Regions from separate parts of the Homo sapiens genome. Here region 1 is linked to region 2. Evidence: fine-mapped expression QTL. A gene starts in region 2. The other region holds a variant in brackets. All regions are shown on one strand. Distances are from middle to middle. Region 1 holds the start of HAUS4 (HAUS augmin like complex subunit 4). Region 2 holds the start of PRMT5 (protein arginine methyltransferase 5).

Region 1 (5,320 bases), 27 kb before region 2:
GTAATCCCAGCTACTCAGGAGGCTAGGGCAGGAGAATCGCTTGAACCTGGGAGGTGGAGGTTGCGGTGAGCCGAGATCGTGCCACTGCGCTCCAGCCTGGGCAACAAGTGCGAAACTCCGTACCCCCAAGAAAACAAACAAACAAACAAACAAAACAGGCGAATGAGGAATGCGCGCTAATAGGGAGTCTGTGGTGGGAATTCGAGAGGAAGGTGACCCTGAGGAAGCACTGTATGGTGCCCGGCATGGGCTGGGCTGGGCTGGGCTGGGCTGGGCGGCAGCGCCTCAGAGCCAGGCCTTAGTGAGGAGACTCGCAGGACGCGGCTTGGGTGGCAGGTCTGGGAAGGTTCCTTCCGAGAGCTATTGGGACAGGTTTAGACCCCCCAAATGGCGACCTCGAACTTAACCCTTTGTGCCTCAGTTCTCCCCCTCTGTAAAATGAGTATAATGGTGACTTTCTCACAGGACGCTTTAAGAACTAAACGAGGCCTGGCCGAGGGCGGTAGCTCACGCCTGTAATCCCAGCACTTTGGGAGGCCGAGGCGGGTGGATCACGAGGTCAGGAGATCCAGATCATCCTGGCTAACACGGTGAAACCCCGTCTCTACTAAAAATACAACAATTAGCCGGGCGTGGTGGCGGGCACCTGTAATCCCAGCTACTCGTGAGGCTGAGGCAGAGAATTGCTTGAACCCGGGAGGCGGAGCTTGCAGCGAGCCGATATTGCGCCACTGCACCCCAGCCTGGGCGACAGAGCGAGACTCCGTCTCAAAAAAAAAACGAGGCAAGGCAAGCAAAATGCTTGGCGTAGTGCCTGACTCATCGTAGGCCCTCAATAAATGTTAGCAATTACCACCATTTTCTCAGCATCTGCCCTTCACTGGGGAGGCACTAATGAGAAGGGGCAAAAAAGCCTTTCCGAGACCATCCTGTTTCCCAGTCCGGGTTCCACCACCCGAGCATGCGAACCCAGGGCGTTGGGAACCCAGCGCGCACCCGTCGAGGGGCGGGGCCTGCCGTTCCCGCCTCGAGTGTGGCCCCGCCTCCACCTCCTTCGTCGCGGCCTCTAGTGCACTTTCGGCTCCTTCCCCTTCCCGGGCCTTTCAGCTTGGTCTTTCCGGGCCTCGCTTCCCCCAGCCCCTGCGCCCGGCCCGAACGAGAGGTTCCGGAGCCCCGGCGCGGGCGGGTTCTGGGGTGTAGACGCTGCTGGCCAGCCCGCCCCAGCCGAGGTTCTCGGCACCGCCTTGAGAGCTTCAGCTGCCCCAGGGTGTGCAGGTTTGCTTTAGAGGGTCGGCGGGCGGAGCTTCGGGGAAGAGGAGCTCTGGGAGAGTCATTCCGGCCAGTGGCCGGAGACCGTCGTCGCTCTTGGGAATCCTTGGCCGCCCAGACAGAAGGGAAGTAGGCGCCGGAGAGCCCGTTCTGCATTTTGATTCATCTCGGGCCCTGTAAGGGTCATATCTTGTGAAAATAACCTGTAAAATCAATTTAACGTTCAGTGCAGCGTGTAAAGACAGCTCTAAGAATTTAAAAGACGCCTGAGTCAGAACATTTAAATGCTTGGGTCCCTGTAGCAGCGTTTTAACACGTCTGAGTGCAGAGGGTGGAGAATCGAGCCTGATTGCCGTTCACGCCCTGTAACCTTTAAGAAGGGTAAAGAAAGGCACCCTAAAAAACGCAAGGGGACACTTACCCTAGGGGGGGACGAACAGCTAGCTTTTTGGAATTTGGGTTGGTCTTCATTTCCAAGTGCGAAATTTGCCTGCAAAACTTTTTATTTGCAGTCATAGATCAACGATAAACAGAATTGTTAAAACACTGAACTTAACTAAGTAGTGGCTTTTGTTGACAAGTCGATTGTGTTATTAATTCTTAATGTCTCATCCAAGGCAGGAATCGTTATCTCAGTTTTGCAGGTGGGAAAAGTTTGGCACAGAAAAAAGCATTTTCCTTAAGTTCTCAGAAGCAACGGCCGGCCGAGCTGCAAATTAAGTCCCAGCATTCTGCCTCCTCAGCTGCGTCCCCCTCTAGACCATGTTAGAAAACAAATGAGTAGTTACTTTGATGTTACTCATAAAACGATCGAGTAAACCAAATGTTCTATAAACATGAAGCGTTAAATCATAATAACCTTCAATGCCTGTTCAGCTTTGGGAGGCTCAGTTGCCCTTTGGAGTTTGATACCTTGCAGAGAGGAGGGGCAGAGCAAAAACATGAAAAGTAATGTCAAGGGAAAATTTTTGTCTCCTGAGGTCAAACTGTGCCCATCTTTACTGCCCCTGTGTTGGTGTCATTCCTTTCAGCGCACTCCATGTTCTGGCAAAACACCCACAGCTCACGTTCTCGTTGTAGCCACATTACACCTTTGCATTACTCTTTTGCCACTGACCTCACTGTCAGTCTTCTTGTCACGCTGTTTCCTCCAGGTGCTCTTTTCTTAGGCTGTTATGTGAAAACCAGTTGTTCAAGTGTGGAATGATTTGTCATTCCTGAAGGATGATTCTAGAGTTAATGATAAAAAAAAAAAAAACTACCAACAGATCTTAGACAAAAAAAGAAGCACAAAAAAACTATTATGGAATTTGATAGCTGAGTTATTTGGGGGGAAAAAGTAGACTTTGATTTTTTTCCCTTTTCCCCCAGTTCACTCATAACTGGGAAGCTGCAGCTCAGTTTTAACTTTGGCATAATGGTGGTGGTGGTGGAGAATCCTCTTGTTTAGACTCAGTGAATTGGAAAGTTCTCTTTTTAGGATGCTCCTTTTGGACAGCTTGGAGCAAGTGGAAACACATGTGTGCTTAGAATGTGACATGTTTTGGCACTTGTAAATCTGTTTGTCCATAAAGCTTGTGTAAGAGCTTGGGACCCAGGATGTGTGGTATAGGCCCTCTGTAAAAGTCATCCTTGAGGTTCCTTTCCAGCTTGTGGACAGCAGAAATTTGAACATAAGGTAGTGTCCTTGGAGCAGCCAGCTGTTTATTCATCTTTTTGTTTTCTTTCACTTCTTGGTTCCACAGATTAGAATCCCAAGAAAATCAAATGGCATCCGGGGATTTCTGCTCACCTGGAGAAGGGATGGAAATACTTCAACAAGGTAAGAGTAGCCACTTGCAAAAGGTTTGATGATTTATCCAGAGAGGTCTTATCCAGGTTCTTGCCTTTTCTAGTAAAAAGCATTTATTGGCTCACACCTGTAATCCCAGCACTTTGGGAGGC[T/C]GAGGTGGGTGGATCACGAGGTCAGGAGATCGAGACCATCCTGGCTAACACGGTGAAACCCTGTCTCTACTAAAAATACGAAAAATTAGCTGGGCGTGGTGGTGGGTACCTGTAGTCCCAGCTACTCCAGAGGCTGAGGCAGGAGAATGGTGTGAACCTGGGAGGCGGAGCTTGCAGTGAGCTGAGATCGTGCCACTGTACTCCAGCCTGGGCAACAGAGCAAGACTCCAAAAAAAAAAAAAAAAAAGGATTTATAAGTTTCCCCAGTATGGTTTTCCTCACAGAAGCATGTGTTTCTGAGGAAACTGGAATACATGAAGATCCTTGAACACTCTCTTATTGGAAAACAGACTACACTAATTCCTGTTAATGTTGGTTCAATATCTGCTTGTGTAGTAGGCTAAAAACTCAAGATGCTCCCATGCTGATGTTAGCAAGCATATTATAAAAATAAGGGTAGCCAGCAAATTCCTTGAAGGTGTCCTTCCTACCTGTGTCTTAAATATTCTCATATCTTAGTCTCCAAAATTTCAGATCCTTCTATATCCTGAGTTCTTTCCATATCTCAGATCCTTTCTATATCTTGAATCCTTCAAGAGCTTGCATTTTCTATATCTTGACTATTTCCATATTGGATGCTTCAGTACCTTAGGGAAAAAGAGAGATTTCTTATTTCCCAAAAAGACTTTGGGTATAATGTTCCAAAGAATGAAAATTTGGGTGTTTTGGCAAGTAGAGGTAAAAGACCCCAACAGAGAGCATATGGAAAAAGAAATGGAAAGAAAGCTCCTTGAGCATATGGAAAAACCAGAGGATCTCAATTTCTTACACTTTTTTCTCATGCCTGTGCTGTTTTGTATCTACATGGGTTACTCAACTCTACTGACAATTATAAGTATTTGGGCCAGCTGGCCAGGTGTGGTGGCTCATGCCTGTAATCCCAGCACTTTGGGAGGCCAAGGCGGGCGGATCACCTGAGGTTGGGAGTTTGAGACCAGCCTGACCAACATGGAGAAACCCCGTCCCTACTAAAAATACAAAAATTAGAGGCTGGGCACGGTGGCTCACACCTGTAATCCTAGCACTTTGGGAAGCCGAGGCGGGCAGATCACGAGGTCAGGAGATTGAGACCATCCTGGCTAACAAGGTGAAACCCCGCCTCTACTAAAAATACAAAAAAAAAAAAAAAAATAGCTGGGCGTGGTGGCGGGTGCCTGTAGTCCCAGCTACTTGGGAGGCTAAGGCAGGAGAATGGCGTGAATCTGGGAGGTGGAGCTTGCAGTGAGCCGAGATCGTGCCATTGCACTCCAGCCTGGGTGACAGAGTGAGACTCCGTCTCAAAAAAAAAACAAAAAACAAAAAATATTAGCCAGGCATGGTGGCGCATGCCTGTAATCCCAGCTACTCGGGAGGCTGAGGCAGGAGAATCGTTTGAACCCGGGAGGTGGAAATTGCAGTGAGCCGAGATCACGCCATTGCACTCCAGCCTGGGCAACAAGAGCAAAACTCCATCTCAAAAGAAAAAAATAAAAAAGAATTTGGGCCAGCTGTGGTGACTCACACCTGTAATCCCAGCACTTTGAGATGCCAAGGTGGGAGGATCACTTGAGCCCAAGAGTTCAAGACCAGCCTGGGCAATGTAGTGAGACCCTGTCTGTAAAAAAAAAATTAGCCAGTCATCGTGGTTTGCCTTGTAGTCTCAGCTCCTCAGGAGGTGGAAGGATCGCTTGATCTGGGGAGGTTAAGGCTGCAGTGAGCTGTGATTGTGCCACTGCACTCCAGCCTGGGTGACAGAGTGAGACCCTGTCTCAAAAAGAAAAAAAAAAAATTGGTTAGTTGAACGTTTAACTTACTCTAAGTGTATTCTGTTAGTCTTGTTTATGCGACTACATATCACATCCAAAGTTGGAACTTCACGTGTTGTGTTTCTTTCCCCCTACTTCAAGAACTCTATTAATTTTGGATGAATGAGGCATTTTGTGTATTGTGATTCCTACTAACGGTCCCTTAATTTTTATTCTATTTGTCTAATATGTACCAACTGCATTTCCGTTTCCTAAGATCTTAGTTTATTACTTATTCCCCCTTAATATCCTTGTATATAATA
Region 2 (5,368 bases):
CACCTCCAATCACTTCAGGCTTCATGGAGCTTTTTTTTTTTTTTTTTTTGAGATGGAGTCTCGCTCTCTCGCCCAGGCTGGAGTGCAGTGGCACGATCTCGGCTCACTGCAAGCTCTGCCTCCTGGGTCATTCTCCTGCCTCAGCCTCCTGAGTAGCTGGGACTACAGGCGCCTGCCACCACACCCGGCTAATTTTTTTTGTATTTTTTTTAGTAGAGACGGGGTTTCACTGTGTTAGCCAAGATGGTCTTGATCACCTGACCTCGTGATCCGCCTGCTTCGGCCTCCCAAAGTGCTGGGGTTTTTTTTTGTTTTTTTTTTTGAGACGGAGTCTTGCTGTTGCCCAGGCTGGAGTACAACGGCATGATCTAGGCTCACTGCAGCCTCCACCTCCCACCTCCTAGGTTCAAGTGATTCTCCTGCCTCAGCCTCCTGAGTAGCTGGTATTACAGGCGCACGCCACCACGTCTGGCTAAATTTTGTATTTTTAGTAGAGATGGGTTTCTCCGTGTTGGTCAGGGTAGTCTCGAACTCCCGACCTCAGGTGATCCGCCCGCCTCGCCCTCCCAAAGTGCTGGGATTACGGGCGTGAGCCACTGTGCCCAGCCTGGCCTTCATGGTGCATTTTTTAAATGCTTTGGTTTTTCCGACTTTCCTTTCCTCCTCCCCCTGCCCCGACATTATTTTGCTCTTGTTGCCCAGGCTGGAGTGCAGTGGCGTGATCTTGGCTCACTGCAACCTCCGCCTGCCGGGTTCAAGCAGTTCTCCTGCTTCAGCCTCCCGAGTAGCTGGCCGAGTAGCTGGGATTACAGGCGCCTGCTACCACGTTTAGGAGAGACGGGGAGTTTTCATGTTGGCCAGGCTGGTCTCGAACTCCTGACCTCAGGAGATCCACCCGCCTCCGCTTTCCAAAGTGCTGGGATTACAGGCGTGAGCCACCGCGCCCGGCCGGTTTTCCGGCTTTCATTCTTTTGGGGCACTTGCATTGCACCCAGGGTTCCCCAGAACTTATCCTACCCCACACCCTTTTCGTATTTCCTATGGCTCTGTCCCCAACGAGCTATGGTGATCTCAGTCGCATGGCCTCAGTTCTTTTCTTCTAGCGACCTCCATCCAACTTTCTATTACACAGCGCCCCCTAGACGTTCAATTCAGCATGACCAAACCCAAACCCTGATTTCCCAAACCCTCTTTCCGCATTTCTTGCTCACTGCATGGACAGAATCCTAGGCATCACCCCCTACTTTGCTTTCTCAGGACTCCTTGCCAGTCGGTCCCTAAGTTCTGCCAGCGGCGCCTGCGTGGGGTCTCTTGTACCGTGTTCTCCTCTCCATCCTTGCTGCCGAGCCCTCAACACCAGTGGGCCCCCTGCCTTCTGGAGTTCCCATTTACCTCCCTATGTCTTTCCTTGCTTCCTTCCTTTCCATCTCTAGCAGCTAATGACATGAGAAAATGTAGATTCTCTCTGGCCTCCATGCCAGCCAATTTCATGACTGCTGCCCACTGTAATTAATGAATTCCTTTTCTCTATCTTGAGGTGTGTGTGTGTGTTTAGGCGTTTATTTACACCTTTTGTGTTTGAAACACAAAACACTACTTCCTAGAATCACTAGGAAGTAGTAGCTGAGTTAGCAGTTTATTTTAATATGTAACATAGTAAGGTGACAAAGCTCATTTTAATAGCACCAGCCATTAACCCAGTTTTCTCAGTGTTCATATGGACGTAAATAATGACACAAGAAAAACACTTTTGAGGGTAGTTACGGGAAAAGCTGACATTACATGGCTGCATAACCCAACCGACTCAGGATCTGATAATGAAAGCGTGAAGATAATAAAGAAGCATCAAGCTGCGAAAGGAAAGGAAAATTACAAAATGCTCACGCAGCGAAGCTGCGAGGAACCCCACCGAGCCAGCCAGGAGTCGAACCTGGAATCTTCTGATCCGTAGTCAGACGCGTTATCCATTGCGCCACTGGCCCTGAGATGGCACTGTTTCTCTCCGTGATGGTACTTCAAGGTTATACTGCAGGGTTTCATGGGCGGTGTAGTCTCTCAACGGCGTTCTTCAGATAGACTAAGCATTCTGGGAGATTGAAGTTCGTCAGGAACCAGACCCTGAGATTGGTGGATCCATGCCGTACGCCACTGTGCAGCCCGCGGATTGGCAGGAAAAGCCACTCCCCATCCCTCCTGTTCGGGAGCTGTGGCAGACGCTCTGGTTGTTAAGGCGACTCGTCCCGCCTTCTGGGGCACTAGTTTGACTTTGTGATTGGCTACTAGTATCAAGGAATCCCGGCGTGGACAGCGCGAGGAGAAAGATGGCGGCGATGGCGGTCGGGGGTGCTGGTGGGAGCCGCGTGTCCAGCGGGAGGGACCTGAATTGCGTCCCCGAAATAGCTGACACACTAGGGGCTGTGGCCAAGCAGGGGTGAGGGCCGGACCTCCACGAGCGGAATGCGGGGTCCGAACTCGGGGACGGAGAAGGGCAGACTAGTCATCCCGGAGAAGCAGGGGTGAGGGGGTCGGCTAGGATGAGGAGGGGAGAGACTATTACTCTTTGGAGGGGAGGAGCCTCGGACCCAGTAACGTGAGGAAAATAACTTGTGGGAGGCCTGTGGTCACTGAGTCCCAAAGTTGGGAGAGTTGTTGGGTAAACTCTAAAGGGCCCTGGAGGTCGCGATTATTGTCTGGGAGTGGGAGGAGGTGTTAGGGGGCAAGGGAGAGAAGAGGCTAATTTTGACGGGGGAGGCATGGGCAGAACTGGGGCAAATCTGGATGTGATGGTCTTGGAAACATACTGACACCTGAGGAGAAAAAAATTCTACTTGTGGATATCCATCATTTTCTCCTTACTCATATGTCCCATGGCTGTGTTTTAGGGAGAAATTGAGGCACAGTACAGCAGAGTTGATATCCCCCAAGGTGGTCTGAACTCAGCAGCCTAGTAGGCTGAACTGATGGCAGCTGAAAGGGCTGTGCAAAATCAAGATAGCCTAAATCCAGTTGCTTGGCTCTCTGGCACTGCTGCTGTCTTTACATGATTCTGGGTCTGTCGCGGTTGTAGGTTTGATTTCCTCTGCATGCCTGTCTTCCATCCGCGTTTCAAGAGGGAGTTCATTCAGGAACCTGCTAAGAATCGGCCCGGTCCCCAGACACGATCAGACCTACTGCTGTCAGGAAGGGGTAGGGACCATCCCATATGCCCCTTAATTATTAGAGGCAATAACAACTTCTGCTTTATCGGGGCCCTCATTCTCCTCCTTTTCTGACTTGGATATATTTGTTAGTCCCTGGGATATAGATAACTTGTTTTCTCCTTGCTTCTCTATTCTGCATCAGGCTATCCCATGTCTATGTAGAAAAAACCTTTGTCTCTCATTTCTACTCTTGATTCCCAAAACTAAAAATTGAACAAGTAAAGTGCTGAACCTTATTCAGTATTTGTCTTTCTTGGGTGGGGGAGTGCAGACTGGAATACGCTAATTGTGGGAAAGCTTTCTCCATGGATTCGTCCAGACTCAAAAGTGGAGAAGATTCGCAGGAACTCCGAGGCGGTAAGACTGTTTGACTTCTCTGCTGGATTTTTCTAACCAAGCTGGGTGGGGAGAGTGGTCCCCTCCCATCCCCAATAACTTGGTAAATTAACTGATAGAATGAAATTAAAGCTATTAGGCTGGGTGCTGTGGTGCACACCTATAATCCTAGCACTTTGGGAGGCTGAGGCTGTAGGATCACTGGAGCTCGGGATTTCGAGACCAGCCTGGGCAGCGTAGTGAAACCCCATCTCTATAAAATATACAAAAATTAGCCAGGCATGGTGGTGCATGCCTGTGGTCCCAGCTACTCAGGAGGCTGAGGAGGGAGGATCAGTTGAGCTTGGGAAGGTCAAGGCTGCAGTGAGTGGAGACTGTGCCACTGCACTCCAGCCTGGGTGACAGAGTGAGACTTTGTCTCAAAAAAAAAAAAAAAAAAGCTGTTTGCTTGTTAGCTCAAACTTTTCCTCTTCATCTCCGTTCCAGGCCATGTTACAGGAGCTGAATTTTGGTGCATATTTGGGTCTTCCAGCTTTCCTGCTGCCCCTTAATCAGGAAGATAACACCAACCTGGCCAGAGTTTTGACCAACCACATCCACACTGGCCATCACTCTTCCATGGTATAGCTGAGGGGCTCCTTTCCTGCTGCATATCATAGTAGTCAGATTGTGCTAAGTACCTTCTTGTGCCTAGCCATTCAGTGAAGGGTGTGTTTGGCAGAATTGAAGTATCAGTATTGGCGGGCACAGTGGGTGATGCCTGTAATCCCAGCACTTTGGGAGGCTGAGGTGGGCAGATCACTGAGCTCAGGAGTTCGAGACCAGCTTGGGCAGCGTGGTGAAATCCTGTCTGTATAAAAAACCAAAACCAAAACAAAAACAAAAAAACACAAATTAGCTAGGTGGGGTGTCACACGCCTGTAGTCCCAGCTACTTGGGAAGCTGAGGTGGGAGGATGACTTGAACCTGTGAGGCGGAGGTTGCAGTTAGCTGAGATTGCACCACTGCACTCCAGCCTGGGTGACAGAGCCAGACCTTGTCTCAAAAAAAAAAAAAAAAAAAGGTCAGTATTGCGCACCTCTCCATCTAAAAGTGGTATGAAGAGAGTTTCAAAACATGTAAATGTAATTATTTTGGAAACTTACGTAAGACAAGGCAGATATTTACATAAGGATCTATATATAAGGTACATGTTCACTTACAAAATTACAAATTGGGAAAAGCATATAAAGGGATTAACGAGGTCTGGATGAAGTTTTTTTTATTGAGGGAAACTTTCTGGACCCAATGAGTTCAAAAGAGAGTTCTAAAAGGGTGACTGTTCATGTGCAGTTCTGGATGCGGGTACCCTTGGTGGCACCAGAGGACCTGAGAGATGATATAATTGAGAATGCACCAACTACACACACAGAGGAGTACAGTGGGGAGGAGAAAACGTGGATGTGGTATGTCTCCCTTTGCTGCTGTACCAGGGTGCAAGGGATAGGGTGAGGGGAAGTACAGGGTGCAACCTGTAGGGAGGTCTCCTTGAGCTGTGGTGATTGGTCGGCCATATCTAGTTTACTGTACTTTTCTGTATTTGACTGAACAGGTGGCACAACTTCCGGACTTTGTGTGACTATAGTAAGAGGATTGCAGTGGGTGAGTCCATGAGAATCCTGGGATGGGTGTGGCTTCTCTTACCTCCTGTGAATAAGAATCAGGAATTTCATATATAGTATACAATTTTGCTACTTCCCCTCTGTCTCAGACTGGCTTTCTCTTAAAGAAGTAAACAGATTTTGCGCAAAGGAGCAAGGAAGGGTTTCTTGCCTGGCAGTGGTTGACAGTTT

Evidence for each region.
Region 1: its variant is fine-mapped to the expression of PRMT5 in whole blood (INTERVAL, PIP 0.91).

Annotation. Positions count from the first base shown.
Region 1 is chr14:22,952,871-22,958,190 of GRCh38, reverse strand. It overlaps HAUS4 (HAUS augmin like complex subunit 4), which reads left to right and starts at 1,101. Exons shown (of 10, transcript NM_001166269.2): 1 at 1,101-1,275; 2 at 3,015-3,091. The coding sequence starts at 3,037. PRMT5-DT (PRMT5 divergent transcript) reads right to left here. Exons shown (of 3, transcript NR_110002.1): 3 at 3,499-3,860. It overlaps MIR4707 (microRNA 4707), which reads left to right and starts at 1,162; the gene lies at 1,162-1,241. RefSeq lists enhancers at 1-317, 318-897, 1,280-1,409. The variant T/C (reference allele first, on the strand shown) is at 3,214.
Region 2 is chr14:22,926,315-22,931,682 of GRCh38, reverse strand. PRMT5 (protein arginine methyltransferase 5) reads left to right here and starts at 2,307. Exons shown (of 17, transcript NM_006109.5): 1 at 2,307-2,431; 2 at 3,068-3,186; 3 at 3,472-3,557; 4 at 4,023-4,157; 5 at 4,869-4,981; 6 at 5,128-5,177. The coding sequence starts at 2,322. It overlaps PRMT5-DT (PRMT5 divergent transcript), which reads right to left and starts at 2,074. Exons shown (of 3, transcript NR_110002.1): 1 at 1,931-2,074. It overlaps TRR-ACG1-3 (tRNA-Arg (anticodon ACG) 1-3), which reads right to left and starts at 1,982; the gene lies at 1,910-1,982. LOC124903285 (a long non-coding RNA gene) reads right to left here. Exons shown (of 2, transcript XR_007064073.1): 2 at 4,781-5,222. RefSeq lists a silencer at 1,854-1,943 and enhancers at 2,354-2,463, 4,522-5,368.